Homo sapiens: one gene and its partners. The protein of the gene in region 2 purifies or fractionates together with the protein of the main gene of each other region. This does not show direct contact. Each region holds a gene or a part of one and is shown on either strand. Other genes may lie near its edges. The genes, in order: CD320, ARMH4, NDFIP1 and BMPR1A.

The links.
Region 1: the proteins of ARMH4 (region 2) and CD320 purify together in Homo sapiens (affinity purification with mass spectrometry; 2 studies listed by BioGRID and IntAct, with this or other methods). This does not show direct contact.
Region 3: the proteins of ARMH4 (region 2) and NDFIP1 purify together in Homo sapiens (affinity purification with mass spectrometry; 2 studies listed by BioGRID and IntAct, with this or other methods). This does not show direct contact.
Region 4: the proteins of ARMH4 (region 2) and BMPR1A purify together in Homo sapiens (affinity purification with mass spectrometry; 2 studies listed by BioGRID and IntAct, with this or other methods). This does not show direct contact.

What each region holds. Positions count from the first base shown.
Region 1 is NC_000019.10:8,305,352-8,312,645, reverse strand, and holds the start of CD320 (CD320 antigen isoform 1 precursor), read left to right. Parts: upstream 1-4,287; 5' UTR 4,288-4,355; coding exon 4,356-4,497; intron 4,498-7,294. Other genes in the region: NDUFA7 (NADH dehydrogenase [ubiquinone] 1 alpha subcomplex subunit 7), read left to right, coding at 1,051-1,141. UniProt on the Homo sapiens protein: Receptor for transcobalamin saturated with cobalamin (TCbl). Plays an important role in cobalamin uptake. Plasma membrane protein that is expressed on follicular dendritic cells (FDC) and mediates interaction with germinal center B cells.
Region 2 is NC_000014.9:58,128,199-58,135,223, forward strand, and holds part of ARMH4 (armadillo-like helical domain-containing protein 4 isoform 1 precursor), read right to left. Parts: intron 5,144-7,025; coding exon 4,892-5,143; intron 3,524-4,891; coding exon 3,314-3,523; intron 1-3,313. UniProt on the Homo sapiens protein: May modulate immune response and may play a role in inflammation. Down-modulates STAT3 signaling throught direct interaction with IL6ST, resulting in the inhibition of phosphorylation of STAT3 at 'Tyr-705'.
Region 3 is NC_000005.10:142,132,754-142,139,778, reverse strand, and holds part of NDFIP1 (NEDD4 family-interacting protein 1), read right to left. Parts: intron 4,050-7,025; coding exon 3,962-4,049; intron 2,046-3,961; coding exon 1,921-2,045; intron 1-1,920. UniProt on the Homo sapiens protein: Activates HECT domain-containing E3 ubiquitin-protein ligases, including NEDD4 and ITCH, and consequently modulates the stability of their targets. As a result, controls many cellular processes.
Region 4 is NC_000010.11:86,759,613-86,766,637, reverse strand, and holds part of BMPR1A (bone morphogenetic protein receptor type-1A isoform 3 precursor), read right to left. Parts: intron 1-7,025. UniProt on the Homo sapiens protein: On ligand binding, forms a receptor complex consisting of two type II and two type I transmembrane serine/threonine kinases.

The DNA of each region.
Region 1 (7,294 bases), on a different chromosome or scaffold from region 2:
AGCCGGGAGTGATGGTGCACACCTGTAATCCCAGTTACTTGGGAGGCTGAGGCAAGAGAATCACTCAAGCCTGGGAGGCGGACGTTGCAGTGAACTGAGATTGTGCCACTGCACACCAGCCTGGGTGACAGAGCAAGAGTCTGTCTCAAAAAGAAGGAACTCAGTGGAGTGGTCCTTGTTGTCACCTTCTGATTCACTGGAGTCCAGCACCAGAGTGTGGCAAGATACCTTGTTCCCACACAGCCCCTTGCCATGCCCCCAGAGATGTGTGCATTTCCCAGGGAGGCCACTTCTGCCTTTTCCATTTCCTTGAGGCTCCTGGGAGGTCCTGTGCCTCCACCCCTGGGGCGCCTCCTCCATCACCCCACCCTCCTGCTTCCTTTCTTGCTTAGGCTGTGAAGTGTGTGAGCTCCACAGGCTCAGGTGGGTGGGGTGAGAGGGGAGGGTGCTCGTCCTGGACTTGCCGGCACAGGGTCTCCTGGGGGCTCCCTCTTGGCCAGCTCTGGGCCAGAGATGCGTTTTGCAGTTGCCATTTGCGCATGGATTCTCAGCCCCACCAGCCTGAGTCTTCCTGAGGGCGGTGCCCCATCTTCCTGGCTCTGCGCCCACACAGTAGCGCCTGCCATGCAGTTCTTGCCCAGTCTGAGGCAGGAATAGCTGGAGGCCATTGTCACCTGATCGCTTGGCCCTTTTGCCAGCATCCTGTTTTGAGGGGCAGCAGGAATGGGGGTGGGGGCCTTGTGTACGCTGGAGACCAAAAGTGGGAAGGGAGGAGCCCAGCTCTCCACAGTGGGTTCTGGGCCTGGGGGCCACAGCAGGGGGTTCATACAGGGCTCAGGGGAGAGAGGAGGCTTGCTAGCTCCCACCTGGCGTTGGCTGATCCTCTGAGGGGCTGCGTTGGAGGGGTTGGCATTCTGGAACACCCTGCTGTCTGTCCTGCAGGTCCAGAAAGTCCCTGTGGGTGTGTTTGTCCCGGGGCAGGTGTGGGCTCCCTCAGATCTTTCCACACTGTTCTTTGGAAACCCTCACTGAAGTCTTTCCCTCCTCCAGCTCTGCTGTAGCTGCCACTGAGAAGAAGGCGGTGACTCCAGCTCCTCCCATAAAGAGGTGGGAGCTGTCCTCGGACCAGCCTTACCTGTGACACTGCACCCTCACGGCCACCCGACTACTTTGCCTCCTTGGATTTCCTCCAGGGAGAATGTGACCTAATTTATGACAAATACGTAGAGCTCAGGTATCACTTCTAGTTTTACTTTAAAAAATAAAAAAATAGAGACAGAGTCTCACCATGTTTCCCAGGCTGATCTTGAACTCCTGGCCTCAAGCGATCCTCCTGCCTTGACCTCCCAAAGTGCTGGGATTACAGGCATGAGCCACCACACCTGGCCTGATTTTATTTTTATTTTTTAGACCTTCCCACTGAGGCCTCTGCTTGACCTTGGTCACCCTGTAGCTCAACGGGGAAGGCAAAGGACAGTGAGGGCTGCTTACAGGGAAGGCAGACCTAGGGCAGATCAGGAAAGGCCTCCCTGAGCCAGAAACCATTATGCTGGGGCTGTGGGATGAGAATGAGTTAGCTCCAGAAGGAAGGCAGCTGGTTCCTGGGGAGGAGATAGAAATCTGGCTGCAGGAGCCAGAGTTTTCGCGCTTGTCACCCAGGCTGGAACGCAACGGCACGATCTCAGGTCACTGCAACCTCTGCCTCCTGGGCTCAAGCAATTCTGCCTCAGCCTCCCGAGTAGCTGGGACTACGGGTGTGCACCACCATACCCGCTAATTTTTTTTTTTTTTTGTAGAGATGGCCAGGCTGGTCTCAAATTCCTGACCTCAGGTGATCCGCCCGCCTTGGCCTCCCAAAGTGTTGGGATTACAGGTGTGAGCCACCACGCCTGGCCCCTGATTTTAAGCAATACCCAGCTTACTTGGATTTTGGGGTGAAGTCAGTGCTGAGTCTCCCAACTCTGTTGGCACTCCAGGGGTGGGACAGACACTGTCCCTGGGTGCAGAGGCCCTGGAGACAGCACTGCCCTTTCCCCCAAAGGCCAGGCTCTGACCTTGAGAGTGGTGGGAGTGGGTGATCCTTCTGGGAGGTTGGACTCCCAGGACCGCTGGCTGTTGGGGAGCATTGATTGTGAAGACCAGTCAGGTGGGGTAAGGGGTGTATGTGCGGACACTCAGTAGGCCAGCCACAGACTTCTCACTTCTTTTTTTTTTTTGAGACAGAGTTTCGCTCTTGTTGCCCAGGCTAGAGTACAATGGCGCGATCACGGCTCACTATAACCTCTGCCTCCTGGGTTCAAGTGATTCTCTTGCCTCAGCCTCCCGAGTAGCTGGGATTACAGGCGCCTGCCACAAGCCCAGCTAATTTTTGTATTTTTAGTAGAGACGGGGTTTCGCCATGTTGGCCAGGCTGGTCTCAAACTCCTGACCTCAAGTGATCCGCCCACCTCTGCCTCCCGAAGTGTTGGGATTACAGGCGTGAGCCACCGCGCCTGGCCTAACTTCCATCTCTTGAGGGCTCCCACAGCCACTTCTCACATGAACCTTCCTCAGCACCTTCCCACTGAGGCTCCTGCTTGACCATGGTCACCCTGCAGCTCAACGGGGAAGGCAGAGGACAGTAAGGGCTGCTCACAGGGAAGGCAAACCTAGGGCAGATCAGGAAAGGCCTCCCTGAGCCAGATCCCATTATGCTGGGGCTGTGGGATAAGAATGAATTCGCCCCAGAAGGAAGGCAGCTGGTTCCTGGGGAGGAGACAGAAATCTGCAAAGGGAGGGTGTCCAAGTCTGGCTGCAGGAGCCACCCAGTGACCCTACGCAGGGGAGTGTCATGGCTTCCCCAGGGCACAGCCCCAGACCCTTCAGCAGCTAAAAAAGATCAGCTGTGGACCAAGAGGGTGCTGAGACCGCCCTGCCCTCTGGAAGGGGAAAGGCCACGGCTACAGGCAGCAGGTACCAGTGTCCCAGAGTGGGTCCTACAAAGGCTAACACCTTCCTGGAGAAGGTGGGATTCTGCTTGGGGCAAAAGGATGAATCAGATTCAGAAAGGTCAGGAGGGAAGGAAAGACTAGGCAGGGTGTGCAGAGGCCACAAGGAGGGCAAGACCCTAGGCAAGGCATGCCGCTGACGGCATCTGAACCAAGTTTTATGACCACAACTTTTTTTTTTTTTTGAGACAGAGTCTCACTCTGTCACCCAGGCTGGAGTTCAATGATGTGGTCTCGGCGCACTGCAACCTCCGCCTCCCGGGTTCAAGCGATTCTCCCATCTCAGCCTCCCTAGTAGCTGGGACTACAGGAGCATGTTACCACACCCGGCTAATTTTTGTATTTTTGGTAGAGACGGGAGTTTTACTATGTTGGCCAGGCTGGTTTAGAACTCCTGACCTCGTGATCCGCCTGCCTCGGCCTCCCAAAGTGCTGGGGTTAACAGGCGTGAGCCAGCGCGCCGGCCAACTTTTCTAACAAATGGGGTCTCACTGTCACCCACGCTGGAGTGCAGCCCCAAGTGATTCTCCCACCTCAGCCTCCTGAGTAGCTGGGACTACAAATTAGAGCCACCATGCCCAGCTAATTTTCTTTTTTCTTGAGGCGGGCGGGGACTTGCTGTGTTGCCCAGGCTGATCTCGAACTCCTGGGCTCAAGCGATCTGCCCGCCTCTGCTTCCCAAAATGCTGGGATCACACACGTGACCCACCGCGCCCGGCCTTTATTATTAAATTTAATTAATTAATTGATTTCCTTTCCTTTTTCCCCCCCAAGCAACCCGACTCCGAGAATGGACGTTTCATTTATTCATTTACTCACCAAATGTTTACTAAGAGCCTACTATGAGTCAAGCACTATGTGTCAGATCCTGAGAATAAAGCAGTGAGCAACAGAAGATCCCTGCCCTCCAGTAGCTAGCATTCTATGGGGACTCGGACAACAAACCAGAATAAGTAAATAAAATAAATTACCTGTCGGCGCCACAAAAGCAGTGGGATGAGGGAGGAAATGCGGAGTGCCTGAGGGGCGTGGCTGCCATATTAAAGAAGATCACGAGGCAGTAACATTTGCAGCAGTCCTCATTTGGAACGGGAAATAATGCAAATGAACACCAACAAATTCCTTCCCATCCCCAGAAGTTTCTAACTTCAAGCGGGCTCCATACCTTTCAACTGATCTGGTCACTGGGGAAAGTGGGGACGGGCCTCTAATTCTCTTTTCCCTGCTATTCTGACATTTACGGTACGCGTAGCCGCGGGCGCCGCAGAACTCAGGGGCTTGGGCCCCGCCCCAACCCCGCGCGTGCGCGTGCGCAGGGATAAGAGAGCGGTCTGGACAGCGCGTGGCCGGCGCCGCTGTGGGGACAGCATGAGCGGCGGTTGGATGGCGCAGGTTGGAGCGTGGCGAACAGGGGCTCTGGGCCTGGCGCTGCTGCTGCTGCTCGGCCTCGGACTAGGCCTGGAGGCCGCCGCGAGCCCGCTTTCCACCCCGACCTCTGCCCAGGCCGCAGGTGAGTGACGCCCCGCAGCGCGGGCTCCCACCCCTCGCGAGGCTTCGCCCCGCCGCCGCGCACCGACAACGCCTAGTCACTGGCTGCACCGCACGTCAGTTCATGACACTCCCCCAGCACGTGGACTTGGACTTCATCGCTTGTGGGAAGGCGCGCACTGGTGCTAGGAAGACCCCATGCTGGGGGAGGGGAGGAGGGTGTCTCCACCTGCCTTTAACGGTTTTGCTCCGGCCCTGCACACCGTCTCCACACCTGCTGTGCCCTGTCGTCCCCCATTGTCACCTCCAAGCCGCCCTTCATACCAGCGTGGTCAGGAAAGCTCTTAGCAGGCTCAGATTGTCCGACCGCTAATCACGCAGGACGGGTCACCTGGTGCCTCTCGCACCTTTGCCTTCCAAACCCTCGCGCCCAGGCCTTGTGACCGTTCCGCAACCGTCCCTGCCCTCCCAGTCTCTCCTCCTTTGTCCTCCATCCTTAGAGAACGCGAGGTCTCTCCCCCCCATGCTACTGCAGGCTCTCGCAGAGACTGGGGTCACAAGTTGAATATACCCCCGTGGACGTGTTCGCCCTGGCCTAAGAGGTATTGGTGGCCAGTGGGGACGGGCTCCCTCTCTGATACCCCTAGAGGCAGCTGGAGGGTTGGAGTGGCCTCCCTGTGCACTCAGGCACTCCCAACTTGCAGCCCTGGGCTCAGGCTCACACACTTTCCCAGCTCCTTTGTGCATTCCGCACTTCTAGGTCCCTGGACTCATCCCAAAGTCCCTGACATTCACGTTAAATGTTCCTGGGTTTTTTTTTGTTTGTTTTTTTTTAAGGAGGCAGCGTTCACGTTAACCAAGTACAAAAGTTTTTGTTTTTTTTTTTTTGAGTCTCCCTCTGTCGCCCTGGCTGGAGTGCAGTGCAATGTTGGCTCACTGCACCCTCCGCCTCCCGGGTTTAAGCAATTCTCATGCCTCAGCCTCCCGAGTAGCTTGGGACTACAGGCACCGTCACCATGCCCGGCTAATTTTTGTATTTTTAGTAGAGATGGGGTTTCACCATGTTGGCCAGACTGGTCTCGAACTCCTGACCTCAAGTGTTCTGTCCGCCTCAGCCTCCCAAAGTGCTGGGATTACAGGACAAAACTCTATACACAGTCTCTTTTTTCTCAGGATGTTGAGGTAGGGATTCCCAGCATACCCCGTTTACAGGTGAGGAAACTGAGGCCAGGAGAGAAAGTCACTGGTCACTGTAACTCCTGTCAGGCTTACACCCTATGAGGCGGGGACTGCTGTGCTCTACTGTCCACTTTGCAGAGGGATACACACTCCCGCAGTCCAGCGAAGGGAGGTCAGAGGTGTCAGGGCTGTGGAAGTCTGCGCCTGGGTGGAGAGCCACACCTGGAGGCTGCCAGATCTCCCGGGGGCGGGGAAGGAAGCAGGCACCGGTTTGTCCACAGCTCTTCTGGGATCCATAGAGCTCAGGGACCCTGTGGCAAGTAGGTGCAATTAGGCCTGAAGGCCGAGGAGGGGCTGGCAGTGGGGAGTGGGGGGTTGGAGGCTCATGGCTGGTGGGTAAAGGTGGAAGAGGTTAAAGGCCTTGGCAGAGTGAAGCTAAGCCAGGGTGGCGGATTTGCCACCTCCCCTGGCCGCACCCAGGAGGAAGCCGTAAAGGCCACTCCCTTCCTCTGTCCCTTGGCCCAGGTTGCGGGCCCCTCCGTGCCCCTCCAGGTCGGCAAGCAGCTGAGCTTCCCTGCTCAGAATCTAGGACAGCCGGGATCTTCTCTGGACCCAGCTTGGACCCTTATGTGACCTGTGTCCACTTATAATCAGGCACTGCCCTGGGTTTAGGCGGCCAGGTCACAGCCCTGACCTCCACAGAATGTCCAGTCTGTGGGTGGACAGGCATGACCAGGGCTTTAAGGACAGTTGTTAGACATGGGAGGCAGTGCTTCCTAGGTCTCCAAGAGGGACATGAGAACCCTCCCAGGAAATCAGCTGAGATCTGAAAATTGAGGGGAAAACACAGGGTGTAGGGAGGAGAGAGGGAAAGGCAAGTCTCTGGTGTCCTAATGGACCTTGGGGCCTGGGGCCTGGGGCTCTGGTGAGGAGCTGACACATTTAGGATGGGGAGAGTGATAGGTCTGGGAGGAATTCAGGAGGCGGGGCAACAGGACTTGGTGACTGAGCAGATTTTCTACCCAGTGCCTCAGTTTCCCACCCACTGCCTCAGTTTCCCTTTTGCTACGCAGAGGAGATAGACCCTCCCTGCTGACCTGAGCCCGGGAGCCTGACCCAGGGCATGTGGAAAAATGGCCCGTCCCTCAGTCTCTTTAACCACTGAGTTTGGAGGTCTCCCTGGCAGATCATCTCGCTATGAGGAGCCTGGTGAAGACTCTGGGATCAGCGAGACCTGAGTTCGAAGCCCAACTCCGCTACCAGCTCTTTTTTTTTTCTTTTTTGTGGTGACGGAGTCTCGTTCTGTCGCCCAGGCTGGAGTGCAGCAGTATGATTTCGGTTCATTGCAACCTCCATCTCCCAGGTTTAAGCGATTCTCATGCTTCAGCCTCCCGAGTAGCTGGCATTACAGGCGTGCACTACCACGCCCGGCTAATTTTTGTATTTTTAACAGAGACGGGGTTTCCATGTAGGCCAGGCTGGTCTCGAACTCGTGACCTCAAGTGATCCACCTGCCTCGGCCTGCCAAAGTGCTGAGATTACAGGCGTGAGCCACTGCACCCAGCCTCTGCCACCAGCTGTATGGCCTCCTCTTGGTTCCTTTCTCTGTAACCTGGGGAGTGCAGTAGCACCTGCCCAGT
Region 2 (7,025 bases):
ATATTTTAAAGAGTTAACCCACATAAATTCCAGGTATGTTTTCAAGACTAATCAGAAATTTTAAGTTGGCATTTTAGAGCAGGAAAGACATTAATATTCAACAAGAGAAGAAAATCAACCTATACAAAGATCATGTCCAAAAATTAATTTATGCAGTTATAAAATATGTATAAAATTTGTCATTATCCCATTTTGAATAAAAAGAACATGTTTGTTATGTTTGTATTTCAAAGCTGCTAAATACAGCCCTCGTAGAGGTATGCCTGAAATGAGTATAAGGCATTTATCATTGTGAGAATATTTATCCCTAAAAAAAAGTCATACATAGAAATCAAATGTAACAGGCAAGGTGAAAAATAAACCATTATCCCTTCAAAAATCAAACTGCATTTTTGCTGACAAGATAAAAGACACTGAAATATGCACAAGGTGGCAGGCACTTATCAAGGCAGGCTTTCTTCAGTGACTAAGAAAAGGAAAACACACCAAAACTTCTCCCACTCTACCAATTCACATCACTCAGGTAGCACGTCTGTCTTCACAGACAGCTGGCAAACTCTTCAGAAGCAGACCCCTGTTACATGTTGAATTGTGTCCCTCAAAATGGTATGTTCAAGTCCTGACCGGTAGTACCAGTGAATGTGACCATATTTGAAAACAGGGTCTTGGCATACATAATTAACATGAGGTCATTAGGATGGGCCCTAATCCAATGACTGGTGTTCTTAAAAAGCAAGGAAAACTTGAGCACAGAGACACAGACGGCCATGTGAATAGATTGGAGTCATGCTGCCTCAAGCCAAGGAAACCCTGGGGTTCCTCCCCTAGAGGCTTTGGAGAGAGCAAGCCCTGCCTATACCTTGACTTCCAACTTGCAGGCTCCAGACTGCGTAAGAATAAATTTCTGTTGTTTTAAGCCACCCAGTTTGTGGTACTTAGTTATGACAGCCCTTGAAAACTCATACCCCCTCTCAGTCATCATGTTGTAGAGATGTGAGAAGCAGGGAAGAAGACAGGGTGCAAGTAGACATCATTTTTAGACTGATTTGGGCTGTTAGTTATCGCTTAAAGGATAAACAGAGCTGCGGATTCAGAAATTTCCATAAAGGTTCATTCTTCTTTGGTGTCTAATGTCTAACAAAGGATGTCCCTTTCCAAATCCCATGGAGAAAAGTACCTCATTTCCCAGAGAAATGCTCCTGCCCCCTAGTGAAAAAGGAAGATATTAAAATAACATATAAACTCATCACAAAGACTAAAACAAGAAAGGCTGCTAACCTGACGTAAGTAATACAGGGTTCTAGATAAGAAAAAAAATTACCTGCCTCTAGGCATAAGCTTATGGAAGAATTAAAATGTTTCACCCAGTCAAAGCTTCAAGCTGCACTTATATTCCCGGGCAAGGTAGAAAAACATGCATTGAAAATAGAGGCCTCCAATACATCCAGGAGTCTAGTAGGTTGATTTGTTTAAATCAGTGTAGTCAATTCAGCTTTTGGAGGACTAGAAGCACCAGCATAAAACTAACAATGGTATTATTAACGTATACTAATTAAACATAAGTTGTACTCCTTGGCATTTACGAGTAAAAATGTGCTAATTCAAAATCCTAAGCCCGACAATGTAGCAAAAATAATATCTTTTGACCAAAAATATTTTTGTAACCCATGACAAGGATAATTTAGATCAAAAACTAACAAAATATATTATCAAAAAGTAGCAAAATTGAATTGTGTAGAAGAAAAGAACTAAAACCCCAGGACACCTTAGGCATGTCGGAAAATTCTAACATATTTCAATACAACTGCCATCATCTACTAAATTTAGAAAGTTACTGCAGTTTCACAAGTATGGATTATTCACAAATATTTTTTTTCTCTGATTTAATGAGCCCTGCTGGGTAAAGCTGTCATGTCTAACTCAGGTTAATTTAGGGAAACCTGCTTTTTCCAGATGGCATCAAGGAGAGCAGACAGTTTATATGAGACGCTAAACTCAAAGTCATACAGTATTTATCTTAATGTGGAATGCAAGAGCTGTTAGCCTTTGAGCCCACTTTGATCTGTTTCTTAAACCAGGCTTCTACTGTGGAATTCTCCACACTGCTCCTAAAATGTCATGTTCCTCTGTCAGCAGCCAACCAGTGTTACCCAGAAAGTCTGCACCAGAGTCAGCTGCAAACCTAGCTCAACCTCCTTCCCTTCGCTTTAGACAAAAAAAAATAATAGCACATCCTATGTCTCTTACTGCAGCAAACACATGGCTAATTGAGTGCCCAAAAGCTTACCAGTGTTCCAGATTAGTTTAAGAAATTCTGCACTATAAATCTCTGGACATTTTGTATCTCCAGCCAGGAACTATTCACCTGCCAAAATGCTGATTAATTACGTGACTATGTGTCATATTTCTAGTCTTCTTATTTGTTGATAGGCAGCCGTGCCTCAAGTTTCTTTTACATGCTCAAAGCCAATGTCTTGGAAAGTACAATTTGGCATGAATTTCTTGGTCTTAGTAAATAAAGAGACTGCCTATCTCCAAATAGTAGCACAGACTAACCCAGAGATGTTACTAAGGGAGAATAACCCAGCATTAACAACCAGAGCAATGCTGTTAAAATACACCCCACATTAAAACTTGCAACCAAGAAAATCTGGTGGGGAAACTCAACATCTCCATCTTAACCTAGTATTCTCAATCCAGCTTGAATACTGAAATCATCTAAGGCAGTCTTTTAAAATGCTGATGCCAGATTCCACCCCCCACCATCTTAATCTCAATCACTGGAGAGTGATTCAGGCACTGGGATGTTTCAAAAGCTCTCCAAGGTATTTCTAATGGTCAACTATAGTTGAGAACCACAGATCCATAGCACAGTCAGCAAACTTGCTCTATAAAGGGCCCTATCATAAATGTTTCAGGCTTTGTGGGCCACTGAGTCTCTGTCACAGCTTCTTAATTCTGCTGCTATGGCACAAAAGCAGCCACACACATATGAAAATGAATTAGTATGGCTGTGTTCCAATATAGCTTTATTTATGAACACTGGAATTTGAATTTTTATAACTTTTCTATGTCACAAAATATTATTCTTCTTTTGACTTTTTTTTTCAATCATTTCAAAATGTAAAAACCATTCTTAGCTTACAAACCATTCAAAAACAAGTGGCAGGCCAGATTTGGCCCAGCTGTAGTTTACTGTCCTCTGATCTATACTGCAGATTGAATATACTCCTACTTAATTCTTTTTCAAAAACATTTGCTCAGTGACTCACTCAACCAGTCCTTGAAAAGATCCCCTTCAAAGCATGAATACCTTCAGATTCAAGTTGGTCCAGGCCATATGAGGCAGCTGTATTAACACGAGTAATAGATGGAACAACAGTTCTTCTCTCAGAGGATGCCTCCAAAGCAGGAAGTGCAGGGGAAATGCTGGGTTCCCCCACCATTATTCCAGGAGGTGTCACTGGAGATCCCAGAACTGGTGTGAACTCCTCATTTGGCCCTGTGACTGTGTCCATTTGTTCTGCCAAACACAACAGACAGGACTTGACCCACAAGATAATCATTATGGCAAATGTAAGCATGTGCTTTCACTTTTTAGGCAAGAAATGATTAAACCAATATCATACAATACAGCAAGTTTGGCACTTGGGTCAGCTCTCCTTTCCCATATTGTATTAATCCAACTCCCCAAAGCAAAGACTTTCAGGAAAATGTATTGTCTTACAGGAAAATGTATTATCTCTAATCAGAACTTTGTTTTTAAATTTTAATCTCCCATTTATTCTATTGGCAATATTATGGATGTTGTAAGATTTTATATTATGTATTGCCAAAGGTAAAATAATTAACAAAAATATATTAAACTGTATTTCAAAGACTACTTTGGAAAGATCGAGTGTCTTTCTCAAAATCAAGTCATAGAGTAAGAGCCTAGATCTGGGTCTGGAATGTCAATTTAAAAGCAGCCAAATATAGCCCCAGGAATTCCCAAGTCCAGAGACTCTAGAACAGCAGTAGCTTTCACATAGATTTGAAAACTTCACTGCCTTTAAGAGATCAGAGCATTTGAGAGCCTCCTATATAGAAAGCACTTTGTAGACATGATTTCAAATTCTTAAAATAACCTATAAAACAGATAGGCATTATTTAGAGGTGAACAAACCAAAGCTTACAGAAGTTAAGAAACTTAGCTTGAGGCTACAATATTAGTGAAAGCCAAAGTTGCGATTCAAATTCAGGTCCATGCTTTTTTCACCTCATCCCCCCCGGCTCCTAGCAGCAGAGTTGCCAAACAGGAAGAGCCTTCTCAGGGGGTCTGGCCTTTGAGGACCCAGAGGTGAGCCACCAGGAGACCTTACTTACAAACTAAACCCTTGTCCCTTTTTTTTTTTTTTTTTTTTTTTGGCACGGAGTCTCGCTCTGTCACCAAGCCGGAGTGCAGTGGCGCCATCTCCGCTCCCTGCAAGCTCCGCCCCCCGGGTTCACACCATTCTCCTGCCTCAGCCTCCCGAGTAGCTCGGACTACAGGCGCCCGCCACCACGCCTGGGTAATTTTTTGTATTTTTAGTAGAGACGGGGTTTCACCACGTTGGCCAGGATGGTCTCAATCTCCTGACTTCGTGATCCACCCGCCTCAGCCTCCCAAAGTGCTGGGATTACAGGCGTGAGCCACTGCGCCCGGCCAACCCTTGTCCTTTTAAGGCTCTGCCACACCTCTTCAAACAGGACAGAGCTCACACCCCTTTCCAGGTAAAGGTGTGTGTGTGTGTGTACGTGCACGCACGCGCGCGCTGATGGCAATGTCGGCTGCCTCACTCATTCTATTCCTAGTCCACTTAACAGAAGAGATCCACCCCCAAAACAGAGTCCAATATCCTCCCTTACAGACCTTCCACAGTGGGAGTAACTTCAAAAGACAAAGGGACGACTGTAGTTGAAATTGTAGTGGCCAGAGGCTCCCATCTTCTTGACAGCTGAGTAACACCAGGAACGTCAGACACAGGAGAGGGGTCCTCCTTTTCTTCCTCAGTCTTGCCACTGTCTCTGATAAGCTCGAGGGTAGCAACCTGCTCTTGTGTCACCATGGATAAAGTGGCATCTGGCTCTTGAACAGCTGTTGTCATCTCTTGAGTGATGATGTCTTAAAGGGGGGAAAACATTTAAAAATAGACCAAATCCCTATTTTTTTAAAAAAAAAAAATCATGATATGATTAAAAACTTGGGGGGAGGGGAGCAGATGCTATTTCAGGAACTGGGGAAGCAAAGAGAGAACTCAGAAGTAAAATGACAGTAAATAAATGTTTTCTCTGTCACGCTTTCAGTAGTTGTGAATCAATCTACAACAGAGATAAAGAAGTTCATGGAAAAAGCTAAAATGAAATCTAAAACAAAGTAGGAAGATCAATTGCTGAGCTCCCTTTCAGGCACATGTTTGAATGTCAACATAATCAGTTTGTTAAGAAACAAGTTATACAGAACTAAGTTACACTCAAAAACTCTCAGAAACATTTGTATACAGTGTATTAATTTTCACATTTGCATTTCTGGAGGGTCAAGGGAAGCTCACATTTTAAAATAAAGGAGTAATAATTACAATAACTAATATTTACTGAGTTTCTATGTTAAACACCATGCGAAGTGCATGACATATAGTATCTTAAGTATGCATCCTCCCATATGTACTACAGGGAGATAGGTACTAATATCATTCCACAGAAGCTGCATCATAGTGCTCAAGAATGCAGGTTCCAGAGCCAACCTGCCTTAGTCACTTACTAGCTGTGTAAGCATAAACAAATTACTTCACATATGTGGGCCTTGAGTTTCCTCAGCTATAAAATGGGGATAATAATAGTATCTATCTCACAGAGTTACTACAAAGATTAGATAACACAAGTAAAACACCTAGTATTTGGTAAGTATTCAATAATTACCAGCTATTATAACTCCACTTTACAGAACTTAGGTTTAGAAAAGCTAAGGAGCATGCCTTTGTTCACATTGCCAGCACCCTTAACCACTGTACTAACTATGCCCAAGGAACACCTTGGAGAGGCCTCTGTAGAAGGTGTGCATTTGCTTTCAGATCAGAAAAGGAAATGAATAGAACTGGCAGGGTATGACATTATCTGTCACAGGTCCACTTGCTTTACAACATTATAATTCCCTCAAATACAGTATTAAAGACTGTTTATAATAATACTCTGCTTTCTCTTCAGATCATATAAATGTTTTGCCTTCAACAGACTACTTATAAGTCAAGATTTTCCCTCTTATGAAGGGGCTATGCTAGAAATTTCAAACACTGTACAGAGCAACTACTAAAAACTTAATTTCTTGAAAACCTTATTGTCTTTTTTAAAATATTAGTTCTAGATACTAAGTATTTTAGCAAGATCAGTAAGTTATACAATGAAAAATAACATTCTAGGGATAGCTTTAAAAGGGTTCCTCAAAGTTTTTATTAATGACAGGCCAGGCACGGTGGCTCATGCCTGTAATACCAGCACTTTGGGAGACTGAGGCGGGAGGATCACAAGGTCAGGAGTTCGAGACCAGCCTGGCCAATATTGTGAAACCCCATCTCTACTAAAAACACAACAAAATTAGCTGGGCATAGTGGCACATTCCTGTCATCCCAGCCACCCGGGAGGATGAGGCAGGACAATTGCCTGAACCCAGGAGGCGGAGGTTGCAATGACCTGAGATCATGCCACTACACTCCAGCCTAGATGACAGAGGGAGACTCTGTCTCAAAAAAAAAAAAAAAAAAAATTTATTAATGACATCATGGCATATCCTATTACTTTAAAAAAAAGTTGCCTTGTAAACAATGTATTTGCTTTAAAATAATGTGTATTTGTTTGTTTTTCACTATAAGCAGTTCCTTTTCTTGGTACTCATCCAGTTAACACTATTTTTCCTTTTGAATTGAAGAGATTTTTACATTTGATGGATTAATATACCTGGTTACAGGACAAACAATGTGAGTCAGGGTAAGGTTTTCACATGAGCTTCATAT
Region 3 (7,025 bases), on a different chromosome or scaffold from region 2:
CCTGAGTAGATGATACCATTGCCTTCTTTCTAATGAGGCCTGATTTTCTTCCTACTCCTCCAGCCTTGTCTTGACTTTGGAAGCTTTATCATGTATACCAGGGTAATCCCCTTCCCTTGCTGGTTTAGGAATGGGCACAGGATGCCATTCTGACCAGTGGAAATTGAGGGCTTCTGAGAAGCTTTCCTTGCTTCTCAAAGAAAAAAACAGTTCTTTCTAAAGGTGGTAGAAAATTTTTTTTTAAATAGTTCTTTTTCTTCTCTTGAGCACTGTCGTGTTTCAATGTAATACTGATACGTGAAACTGCCATCTTTTAACCCTGAGGGGAGGGGGGACCTGTGCCAATATGCTGATATGTCAGCTGTCCTTGATGATGTCAAAGAACCACTGACTTAACTAACCTTGTCAGGGACTTGTTTTCAGGGGAAATAAAATTTCCCCGTTTAAAAAAACAATTAAAAATTTTTTTCTAAGCCATTTTGAGCTAGGTTTTTGTTACTCACAGTCAAAAGCATCCTACCTGATACAAGTTAATTCATTTAACTTTTTTTTTTTTTTTGAGAAGGAGTCTCGCTCTGTCGCCCAGGCTGGAGTGCAGTGGCACGATCTCGGCTCACTGTAAGCTCCACCTCCTGGGTTCACGCCATTCTCCTTCCTCAGCCTCCCGAGTAGCTGGGACTACAGGCCCCCGCTACCATGTCTGGCTATTTTTTTTGTATTTTTTTAGTAGAGACGGGGTTTCACCATGTTAGCCAGGATGGTCTCGATCTCCTGACTTCGTGATCTGTCCGCCTCGGCCTCCCAAAGTGCTGGGATTACAGGCGTGAGCCACCGCACCCGGCCCATTTGATTCACTTTTTAAATGCAGTTGAAAATTTAGTTTGAAAAAAAAAAAAGACTGGAATTAATTTTATTTCTCTTTTCCTTGGAGGCTTTGGTGTCCAAGAGTTTAATGTAGTTCGAAAAGTAAAATATAGTATTTTCTTTGTTAATAAAGTAACAATTAAAATTTAGGGAAGGAATGAAAACCTCTTTAGGGCTCGAGTTCTTAACCTAAAGTCCATTATTATAGATGAGTACATATTAGCTATGTGGGGGAAAAGCTTACAACTTTCATCAGATTCCCAAAGGATTCTGGAACCCTAAAAACGTTAACAAATGTTTTATAATAAATAAGGTGGCACTACGTAGAAAAACTACAGTGGTCAAGCAACACCCATTAGTTAGTTAAGTATGCCAATTTATGACGGATAAATTGGTTTTGTTTATAAGGTTGACGATAGCAATAAATTTATCTGAAATCAGAGGATACTTTAAAAGCCTAGATCTTTTACAACTGTAAATTACTTCATGCAAATTTAACTAACTGGTAACTCTGAAGTCACTAAAGACATACATCTCTGTAATTTACTTGAGAGGTAGGCTCCTAATGGAGCAATACTTGTTAAACAGTTTTGGCTCCCCAAACATTTTGGCATAAGCAATCCTGGAAGGGAGAGGGGAAGAGAAGGAGAAAAGAAAAGAAGGAAGAAGAGAGCTAGATTAAAACTGTAACAGAATTAATGAGAGGAATGGCTGCTTTTGATGAGATATCAAAGGGGTAATATCCTTCCTTTTATTATAAAAACAACTAATTTCAGAACATATACATTATCATATTATAAACATTAAAAACAAACAAAGCAGATGGTGAACAATATTAATGATAGACCAGTTTTCAATAGATTTGACAACAAAACTTGTGTGCATGAACCATTTGCAAATGATTTTGGTTCAGCTTCATCATGAAACCACAGACAAACCAAAAATCATTTAACACACTGAAATAACTTTTAAAAAAGCAAATGAAAAATCGAATATTCAAAAATATTCTGATTATTGCCTCTCTGTAGAGCCCATCTTTTCTGTTATACAACTTACCCTGACAATCAGGATCCATTTAATTAGAGAGAGACCAAATCCTGAAATGGCCCCATACCTTCCTGCAGCTGAAGTGGTCAGGCAAAAAGACAGGAAAAACCCAATCCAGTTAAAGAGGAATGCCACTGCAAAAGCAGAGGAGGGGAAAGATGTTAGACATGTCCTGTTACCCAAGAACAAGAGTGCCTTACACCTGCCTCTGTTTAAATGACTTTCCAAAGGATAAAAGACAGCCTGTCCTCCACAACCGTCACCATACCTCCTCTAAAACATCCATTCTTCTGTCTTTCCCCAAAAAGCAAACAAGAAAAACTCCTCCCTATCAGGTTTTACACACTTATGTCTACTGCTAGTCACTTTCAAAAACGCCTTAATAGGCTGAGCACAATAGCTCACATCTGTAATCCTAGCACTTTGGGAGGCCAACGTTGGAGGATCCCGAGCCCAGCAGTTTGAGACCAGCCTGAGCACCACAGTGAGACCCATCTCTACAAAAACTGAAAAAAACAAAACAAACAAACAAACAAACAAAAGCCGGGCACAGTGGTGCACACCTGCAAGTCCCAGCTACTTGGGAGGCTGAGGTGGGGGGATCACTTGAGCCCAGGAAGTCAAGGGTACACTGAGAAGTGATCACACCACTGCACTCCAAATTCAGCCTGGGCAACAGAGCAAGACCTTGTCTCAAAAGGAAAAAGCAAAAAAAACAAAAAACAGCAAAAAGCAAACCTTAACATTCACCAAACTGTATACTTACAACCTCTGCTTTTTTTTTTTTTTTTTTTTTTGAGACTGAGTCTCACTCTGTCACCCAGGCTGGAGTGCAGTAGCACGACCTTGGCTCACTGCAATCTCTGCCTCCCAGGTTCAAGTGATTCTCCTGCCTCAGCCTCCCGAGTGGCTGGGACTATAGGCGTGCACCGCCAGGCCCGGCTAACGGCTAATTTTTGTTTTTAGTAGAGATGGGGTTTCTCCATGTTGGCCAGGTTGGTCTTGAACCTCTAGCCCCAGGTGATTCGCCCACCTCAGCCTTCCAAAGTGCTGGGATTACAGGCATGAGCCACTGTGCCCAGCCTTTGACCTCTTTTTTTTTTTTTTTTTTTGAGACGAAGTCTCACTCTTGTCCCCCAGGCTAGAGTGCAATGGTGCGATCTCACCTCACGGCAACCTCTGCCTCCCGGGTTCAATCGATTCTCCTGCCTCAGCCTCCTGAGTAGCTGGGATTACAGGTGCCTGCCACCACACCCAGCTAATTTTTGTATTTTTAGTAGAGATGGGGTTTCACCATGGTGGCCAGGCTGGTCTCGAACTCCTGACCTCAGGGCATCTGCCTGCCTCGGCCTCCCAAAGTGCTGGGATTATAGGCATGAGCCACCATGCCCAGCCTGACCTCTGCTTTTTACTGTGTGTGTTATATATATATAGTCCAGTAAATAAAATAAATGCCTTCAACATTAAATAAGTGCCCCCAAATAATCTGATTCAAGTCACTCATCCTCCTGTTCTCTGAATTTTGACAACTTATATAACATCACCTCTAAAAGCATTGCATTTTCTTATCTTTCTAATACAACAAATAAAGGAAATGGTTGCTCACTTCTATGTGAGGCACACAAAAAGATAAATGGCAAGTAACATGAAGGGAGAAAATCAGGCTGACTTTGATCTGTCAGAAAAAAGAAGCTTTCAGAGCAAAATTCATCAAAGGCATTTAATTCCTATTCTACAGATTAAGTATGAGTAGAAGCAACGCAAAAGGGCCCCGTAGACCTGGAAGATGAGGCTTAGCTCATGTAAAAATGCAGCATCCTCATAACTGCTTTAATTATATTTTCCACAGATATTCATGAAAATAGAAGGCAAAGAGAAGGGATATTAAAACAAAGGTATATTAAGCTTTGAATATTCCAGTAAAAGGCACCAAATAAACATAATGTATTAATATATTAGCTCAACTAGTTATTTTAATTCAGTCAGATTCACCCATAATCCAAAGCACTCTAGTTTGTAGGGGGTGGTTCTGATATGCATACATACTTACTGAAAAAAGTTAACATGAAAATCCCATCATTTCCTATCCTCAGCTGGTCAGCATCATCAAAATCATCCCGACCCACAAAATCCTCATCCTAAATGAAAAGAAAAAGAATTATTTCTAGGCAAAGGGAAGACATAAAGAAAAATGAAGGGTTAAATTTGAGTAGCAAGGAAAAAAGTTATTGCTTTGGTTCAGTTCAAAATTATGAGCATTAAAGGCTCAATGTGTGTTTAAAATTCCATTTTGCATTATTAATATATAATTAGAAAAGAAGCAAATCTTTCTTCTATCCCCAGTGTTCTAAATGAAATTTTCATCTTATAACCCAAGTTCTTTAACAATACACTTCAAAAATTTAATACACTTCAAAAACAATACACTTCAAGAATAGTTCACAAAGAACTATTTACTCTTCCTTTAAAAAAATATACCTCAAGAAAAGACAAAAGACAAAATTTACTTACACATTTGGTTTAAATTCTAGAATATCAGTAATCGAGGACCTGTTTAGGACCTAAAATATTAGTAATTAGAGATAAAATCAGCCAGGTGCAGTGGCTCATGCCTGTAATCCCAGCACTTTGGGAGGCCAAGGCAGGCAGATCACGAGGTCAGGAGATCGAGACCATCCTGGCTAACATGGTGAAACCCGTCTCTACTAAAAATACAAAAAAATTAGCCGGGAGTGGTGGCGGGCACCTGTAGTCCCAGCTACTCGGGAGGCTAAGGCAGGAGAATGGCATGAACCCGGGAGGCAGAGCTTGCAGTGAGCCAAGATCCCACCACTGCACTCCAGCCTGGGCAACAGAGTGAGACTCCGTCTCAAAAAAAAAAAGATAAAATCAACCAGCTCAAGTGCTTTACGAGGCTGATATAGGGGAAAAAAGAATAGTACGATCATACATGAATAGTCCACAGAACTGCCCACTGCTCAACTCCATAAGCATGTATTTGTATTGGTATACAGATCTAAATCTCACTTCTAACCTTATCAGCAGATAAGATCTTTTCCATCCTAACTTGATAACGTAATATTGCAAAACTAGAAATAACATGATCATGAACAATACCAACACATGTGGGCTATCTTTTTAACTGATATAGGTGTGTGTTGAGATATTTAAAAATAATTGAATATATACTTAAAAGTGATAGATTTGTACACAGTTCAATGAGGGCTCCTTAAATGAAAAATATTTTAGGGAATATCAAAACTTGTTGTACACAGAAAAGGGTCTGGAAGACCCAAATTGTTAACAGTGGTTCCCCTGGGGAGTGGGAACTAGAGAAAGGGAAGTCGGTGGCAATGGCAGCTTCCTTTTCTAACTTAACATACTTCCTCTATTGTTTGAAATTTCTATAAAAACGAATTTTTATAATTAATTTTTTAAAACATTAAATACCTAGTATTCTTACTTCGTATCAGCAGAATAAGGTTTTGCCAAAATTAAAAGCTAATTGTTTTTTGCATAACTATTCAAAGATATACTCCAAAAAATATATGGAAGTAACATCTAATAATATTACGAACACCTTCTAACTGTTCTTCCTGTCCTCTTGGTATCTCTTCTACCATGATGCATCCTAGAAATTGCTGCCAAGTTAATGTTTCCAAAACACCACACAAGTCCTCTCATACCCCTGCTCAAAAACTCTGAAGGATTCTCTAAAAGCTACATATGAAGTTTAAATACGCCCATCTAACATTCCAAAGATTCTATAAACAACAGTTGTAGTCAGGACTTTCTATCTCCCTTCACAAACTCTTGCTCATACAAAGCCAATTACTACATCCACAGAACTGCCTTCACCTGGCTGAATTCACACCTGCTTTCTGTGCCTTTTTCCCTCTGGAATGTTCTTACCCATCAAAACTCCGGGCCCACATCAAATCTCATTTTCCCCTATGATCACCCAGTAAAAAGTTTCAGTTCTTGATGCCCACTGCTCTTATGTGTCTTAGTTATCAGTATTTGTGGGCCCTTTACCCTAGTTGGATTTTAGGCTTTTGAATAACAATGAGGAACACTGCCTTATACAAAGCTTTTTACCTATCCACTGTAAAATATACTGCATCTTATATTTAAAAAGTGCTTTATACATGTCTGCTGAATACTAGAGCCCTTTAAGAAGTTCCTAAATATGTACTTGTATCAAATGAAAGTATTCTGAAGAGTTATGTGATTAATCAGAGCTAATTTCCATACTGATCTATTTACCATATATTGCAACAGATCTGCAGAGTACAGTGAAACAAACAAGGACTTTGGATTCTAGAATATCTGGGTTTGACTTTCACTTCTGCTACTTATCAGTCATATGACTTTGGGAAAATTACTTTTTCTCTCTGGACCTAAATTTTCACATCTGTAAAATGGAGATAATATAATCTCTACCTTTCAAGGTTACTATGAAGATTGGAAACAATATACAAAATATATAAAAGCATCAAGCACAGTACCAAGCATGTGGTTTGCTTCCAATATACGGCAGTTACATTATGATGGTCTTGCCCTTAGACACTAGGGTTTTTAGTTTCTCCCTGGTACCTGTAAGAACTGAATGCACATCATCGCCATTTAGGATCATCCTAGATTGGGCTCATAAACTATTTCTACCAAGCAATGATTTTAGGAGCTTCGCTCCTCACAGTAGGTGTGGTCTGCAAACTGTCTACTATCTTAAAGCCAAGAGGGGAACATCTGGGCCTATGCCATCACACTGCCCAGACTAGGCTTCTGTACTTGCTCATCACTCACTCCAGTTACTTGCTAGAATAGAGCCTAGAGGCCTGATGGTCCCCGCATTTCTGGGGACTTATCCTGCTTCCATTCTCCCACAATGCCCTACCTTCATCAGCCTCAATCTGGATGAATATTTACAAAATGACAAATGCAGCACTCACATATCTGACATCAAGAACCAAGAGTGCCCAATAATCTCCACTGGTTTATATGGCATCCCAATCTCCACCTCCATGAATCAACATCAGGCTAGATGGAATCTGAACTCACTATGTCCCCACAAATGACATGATCTGGACTGCTGGAAGAACGGAGTTCATCTA
Region 4 (7,025 bases), on a different chromosome or scaffold from region 2:
TCTCAAAAAAAAAAAAAAAAGACTGATATGATTATGTTGGGAGGAGAGAACATATTCAAATACTGTTGGCTGGAATATGAATGGTTACGAAGATTTTGCAGGGTGGCTTGGCACTTTCCATCCAATCTGCACGGCTTCTCTTATAGTAAATGCATTTCTAAGAATTCATTTCATAAAATAAAAACAGTCTCAAAGGATATGTACAAACACCACAGCATATTTGCAATGCAAAAGAAAAAAATGGAAATAATCTAATTATTCATTAACACGAAACTGGTAAGTAAAATTAAGGTATAATCAGAAAATGGAATAACTGCTTAACTACTATAAAGAATGAGATGATTAAGGCTGCGCACAACACCTCACACCTGTAATCTCAGCACTTTGGGAGGCCTAGGTGGGAGGATCACTTTAGCCCAGGAGTTCGAGACCAGCCTAGGCATCATGGTGAGATCCCACCTCCACACACACAAAAATTTTTTAATTAGCTGGGCATGGTAGCATGCACCTCTGGTCCCAGCTATTCAGGAGGCTGAGATGGGAGGATTGCTTGAGCCCAGGAGTTGGATGCTGCAGTGAGCTGTTTGCACCACAGCACCACTGCAGCCTGGGCAACAGAACAAGACCTTCCCTCAAAAAAAAAAAAAAGAATGAGGAAATTGAAATTTACTGACATAAAAAGAATCCCCCTATATATTCAGTGAAAATAAATTTAAAGATAAGGATGTATCGTATGACCCCATTTTAGGAAATGGGGACAGAAAAAAAGAAAGAAGGCAACAGAAAAGAAAATTTTTTCTAGCTCTATACTTTCAACAGTGGCAATCTTGGGGCACAGGTGAAGCATGATTACAGAAGACTTTCATTACTTCATTTCTGTATTGTTTGAAATTTCAACCACAAATATGTGTAACTTCTGTTAACAGAAAACACACAGTTCTATGGTAATACGTAGTTAGGGAAACTATACTAGAGTTTCACCATGTGTATTAGCATATTAAAAGTTCTGAGAAGGTTTGTAGTAAAGAAATCTAATATACCAAAAGATTATCTTCAAATAATGATGCAGCAAAGAGCCAACTATGAGGCTTGGACCACTGAGGAGGGCTTCATAGGAGAGAGAGGAATATTCTTTTTTTTTTTTTTTTTTTTTTGAGACAGAGTCTTACTCTGTCGCCCAGGCTGGAGTGCAATGGTGCAATCTCGGCTCACTGCAACCTCCACCTCCCAGGTTCAAGTGATTCTCCTGTCTTAGCCTCCTGAGTACCTGGGATTACAGGCGTGCCACCACACCCGGCTAATTTTTGTATTTTTAGTGGAGATGGGGTTTCACCATGTTGGTCAGGCTGGTCTCGAGTTCCTGACCTCGTGATCCTCCCGCCTCGGCCTCCCAAAGTGCTGGGATTACAGGCGTGAGCCACAGCACCTGGCCAAGGATTTATACTAGATTTTAAAGCATTCTGATGGGCAAAGAACCAGGGAAAGGAAAGTCAAAGGCAGTACTGTCCAATATGACGTGTAATTTTAAACTTTCTAGTTGCCACATTTAAAAAGTAAAAAGAATCCTGTGAAATCAGTTTTGTTTTTTTAACTGAGACAAGGTCTCACCACGTTACCCAGGCTGGTCTCAAGCTGCTGGGCTCAAGCAATCCTCCCACAGTGCTGGGATTACAGGCATGAGCCACCATGCCCGGCCAAAATCAGTTTTAATATATTTCTTTAATCCAATGTATCCCTAACAGTATCATCTCACTATATAACCAATATTTTAAAAGCATAATGAGATATTTTACATCTTTTGGTACTATCTTCAAAATCTGGTACGTAATTCACACTTAGACTAGCCACAGTTCAAGTCTTCAACAGCCACATGTGGTAGTGGCTATCTATTGTAGTGGACAGTAGAGGTCTAAGGATTCTGAACCCAAACCTGAATCGGATATTTACGTGACTTAGGCTGATAAAATAGTAGGAAAGGAAGCAAAGCAGAAAAGGCTGACTTGGCCAGAGCAGGAGACCAGTCCAAGATATTCTGGATTTTCTATTGTAAGCAAATAAGAAAACAGGGAAAAATATTTAACAAATAGGGATGATGACCAAAGCAGTACTTCAGAAAGATTAACAGTTTTTGCTAAAATATACACGTACAACTTCAACATGCAATTTTTCCCCCACATTTTTATTAAATAAAAGATTATAAAATGAAGGAAGAATAATCTGTCACCCAGCGATTATATTTCATTGATTTGGTATACATTTAAGATACTTCTGAACAGTTACCACTGAAATATTTTTATTTCATGACATTTTTAAATGATTCTTGAAAAATGCAGACATTAAGAGCCTCACCAAAATTTAACAGCCTTTACTTTAATATTTTCTAACAAGAGCTTCTTTTAGCCAGGAATCTAAAACATTCTTATATACAAATTTAAAACACTCAAGACCCTATACTCTTGAAATACATTACAAAGCATTTTAATTACTAGTAAGAAAACTACCTACAAATCTTAATATACATAAAACAGTATCAAAACTATCCAAGTCAGCCAGATGTGGTGGCTCACGCCTGTAATCCCAGCACTTTGGGAGGCTGAGGCGGGAGGATCACGAGGTCAGGAGATTGAGACCATCCTGGCTAACACGGTGAAACCCTGTCTCTACTAAAAAATAGAAAAAATTAGCTAGGCGTGGTGGCGGGCTCCTGTGGTCCCAGCTACTCAGGAGGCTGAGGCAGGAGAATGGCGTGAACCCGGGAGGCAGAGCTTGCAGTGAGCCAACATGCGCCACTGCACTCCAGCCTGGGCGACAGAGCGAGACTCCGTCTCAAAAAAAAAAAAAAAAAAACAACTATCCAAGTCTCCTACAGATTTCTCACCTTCAAAATTGAGAGTCTATCTTCTCAACATTTTGATACTTTACCCAAAGGCTAAAGAAAAAAAAATTAATGCTCAAAAAAGGAGGTAAGAAAGCAGGATACGGGAAGGGCACCGCAGGCATAAGCCATACTCCCTTTGGTACTTGCAAGGACTGCCAAGGCTGGCGTGATTCTTCAGCCAAAAGTCAGAAGTCCAGTGATGTCATTAGGACCAAAAGCATTATATGACCTTCAATTTCGGCAGCTAACTGTGCTGCAAGTCAAGATATTTTCTTTCTTTTTCTTTTTTTAAGCAGAAAAATTATCTTAAAGTTCACCATGTTCCTTCTATTTTTTAAGATAAAGAAACGAAGATTCGGATTGGGTTAGTGTGGCATCCGTGATTGAATAGGTACTCAGTAGTAAAACCAGTATCAGACATTATTTATAAAAAATTAGAAGCTGAAACTTAATCATTCCGCTGCTTCTTTATGGCTTTTTATACTTCCCAAATTACCCACAATAGATGTATTGCCTTTAAAATTTTTAAAAAGCTGCAAAAACTGCTCACTTTACCGAATACTTCTGGCCGGGCGCAGTGGCTCATGCCTGTAATCCCAGCACTTTGGGAGGCCGAGGTGGGCGGATCACGAGGTCAGGAGTTCGAGATCAGCCTGACCAACACAGCGAAACCCCGTCTCTACTAAAAATACAAAAATTAGCCAGGCGTGGTGGCTCACGCTTGTGACCCCAACTACTTGGGAGGCTGAGGCATGAGAATCGCTTAACCCGGGAGGTAGAGGTTGCAGTGAGCCAAGATCACGCCACTGCACTCCAGCCTGGGCGACAGAGTGAGACTCCGTCTCAAATAAATAAATAAATACTACTGAATACTTCCAAAAACAGTCTCCTTGTCCTTTCTTGCCTAAGGTCTCACTCTGCGGGCTACCTTTCTCAGGAAAGCCTTCCAAAGTACCCGCATCCTGAACAGCCCAGCTTCCCTTATCAGTCTTGTAACATTCCCTGGACTTCCTTTTTGTAGATCTTAACATAACTACAACTAGATAATTATTTAATGTCTATCTTCTCTACCCAGGCCTTAAGTTGAAATTTCTCAAGACTGGCCAGGCGCAGTGGCTCACACCTGTAATCCCAGAACTTTGGGAGGCCAAGGCGGAAGGATCACCTGAGGTCAGGAGTTGAGACCAGCCTGGCCCACGAGGCAAAACCCTGTCTCTACTAAAAATACAAAAAGGAGCCAGGCGTATTGGCGGGCGCCTGTTAAACCCAGCTACTCGGGAAGCTGAGCCAGGATAATCACTTGAACCCAGGAGGCGGAGGTTGCAGTGAGCCCAGATCGCACCACTGCACTCCAGCCTGGGAAACATAGCAAGACTCCGTCTCAAAAAGAAAGAAAAAAAATTCTCAATGCTGTTTTAGGCTCTTTGCTAGACCATACAAGGAGTTCTCGATACGAGGTCTATAACCTATAACCTGTAATTCTATAACCTATAACCTATGTCTTCCTCTGCCAGATATATGCACCTGCCTGAAATGAGACCACAAAAGTGAAGAACAGAAAAGACAACCTCAATTAATTATATCATTTGAGCACTTAGGTCCAGCCATGTCTATTTCTAGACCTTTCAATATCATGGGGGTTAGTGGGGAGAAGCTTTTCCCTCCTTTAAGCTAACTTGAGTTAGGGCTGTCACTTGTAAGCAAGAGTCACTTGAGAGAGCCACCCAATTCCCACTGTTGGAATATAAAATCTATACAGCAATGACTCCCAAATGCCTACCTCCAGCACAAACCTCTGTCAAACCCCAGACCCATATAGACAACTGCCAAGTGGAAATCCCTACTTGGCTGTTTCAGATATCTCAAACTCCATGTGATCCAATACTATTTTCTTCTACAAACCAGCTCTCCCACCTCATTTTTCATATCTGTCACCCACATCTACCCTGCTTTCCAAGCTAGAAATCCAGGAGTTGTTCTTGCCAATCCCATTCCTTCTCTCATCCACGCTAGTTATCGCCTCCTATCCATTCCAGGCCCTAATTATCTGCCACCATCTTAACCCATTTATGCCTGAGGCTGCAATTTTTTGAATTTTTGCAATCAGACCTTGGTGATGACCTTGAGCAGGATATAAATAACTCCCACGTGCTTAGCGTTCCAATAGTGGAACACTAGGCATAAATGGGTTTAATCCGGGCTAGGCCAGAAAGACCTTCCTACAAGTTTGAACATCTTCAGTCTTCCTTTCTTCAAAATGATTTTCCAACATGTAACTAATCTCCCTAACTGCAAATGTGATTATAATATTTTATCCCTATCTCTAGCATACTCCTGTCCTCCTTCATAAGTCAACAGCCAATTATATACAGCTGGATCAAGAGCCAAGCTCCACTGTTCCAGACTTTAACAGTATAACAAATCTGTGCCATAAGAAAGGAAGGCTCATCAGAAATATAAAACTATAAAAGAGTAACAAAGTCTACAACATCAGAGTAAATAAAAGATACTCAAAGATAATTTACTCATCTATTCAATGTCTACTCATTAGTTATATATTAAACTGCCCATACGAACTGGCTTAGGGACCACAGGGGCCACCCTGAGATGGAGTCTACTGATCATCTGATCTCCCTATGCCCCTAACTAGTGTTCTTTTCAAAAAACACTACTGGGGATTTCCAGGCACATCCAAGAGCTTTGATTAGGGAGAGAAACACTATTCATCAATTCTAAGATGCATCCATTTTTCATATTTTAGCATCTCCGGAATTGGGGTGCACCTTACAATCAATGGCTTCTTACAACTAGAAGCATATTTTAAGTGGTCTGTAACACTACTGTGTATCTTACAATGGACATAACTCAATGCAAGTCAACATTTAATCTTGTGTTAAAAAGTTGGTCCAACTTGGTCAATATGGACCTTGTGATGTTAAAAAGACATCCTAAAGCCTAAAAACTAGTAAAAGGTGGGAAAGTAGAAAAGGAAAAGAAATGGTTCCTACTTCAAAATTTAGTGTGATAGGAAACCCATTTTCCTTTCTCTCCATGGTTCGCTGCTCCTAAGATCCAATAGTCAGATCAGGACAGTTCAACAGCTACTGTTAGGCTAGACAGGAGCCTTTCCCCATTTATTCCTTTTAATATGCAAGAAAAGTCCGTTACAGACCCACCCTGCAAACTAGTAGTGAAACTAATATTTGTATAAAAACTGCTATAAAGGCCAGCCACAGTGCCTCACCTGTGTAACCCCAGCACAGGGAGGCTGAGGCGAGCGGATCAACTGAGGTCAGGAGTTTAAGACCAGCCTGGCCAACATGGCAAAACCCCACCTCTACTAAAAATACAAAAATTAGCCAGGCGTGGTCCCAGCTACCTGGGAGGCTGAGGCAGGAGAATCCCTTGAACCCAGGAGGCAGAGGTTGCAATGAGCTGAGCTCACGCCATTGCACTCCAGCCCAGGCGACAGTGCGAGACTCTGTATCAAAAAAAAAAAAAAAAAAAAAAAGAAAGAAAGAAAGAAAGAAAGAAAAAACAATAAGGTATTAAAAAAAAAAAAAAAAAAAAACAGGTAAATCTGAGGCAAATACCACAGAAAATATTTCATTTAATGGAAGACCTAGGAAACTTCTGAGTGGCGAAGTGGTAAGAACTGGGCTTACAGATTAATTTAGGCAGAAATACATAAGATTAGATAAAGGAGAAAAGTGAAGGCAAGAAAATCATAACATTAGTCCAGGTGGGATGAGAACTTGATTTAGAGTTAGGGGGTGGGGGTGGAGTCGCGGGGTGGTGGGGGGAGAACTACGTGAAAGCCAAATAACACTAGATTTGAAAATAAATTCCTGAAAAAAATGTGAAACATTAAAATTCATATGAGAATCAGAAAATCGACACAAACCAACAGCTATTAAAGAAATTGAAGTGTTACTCAAAGTCCTCTCCAGAAAAAAGATCTAGGCCTAAATGGTCACATAGGGGAGGTCTTCCAAACTTTCAAGGAACAGATAATCCCAGTCTAAAATGATCCTGAAAAAGAGAAAAAGAAGGAAAGCTGCCCAACTCGTTTTATGATTTGACTACTACCTTCACACCAATATGAATTCAGAATTGCCCCACAGTTAGCAAGAATAGAGAGCAGAAG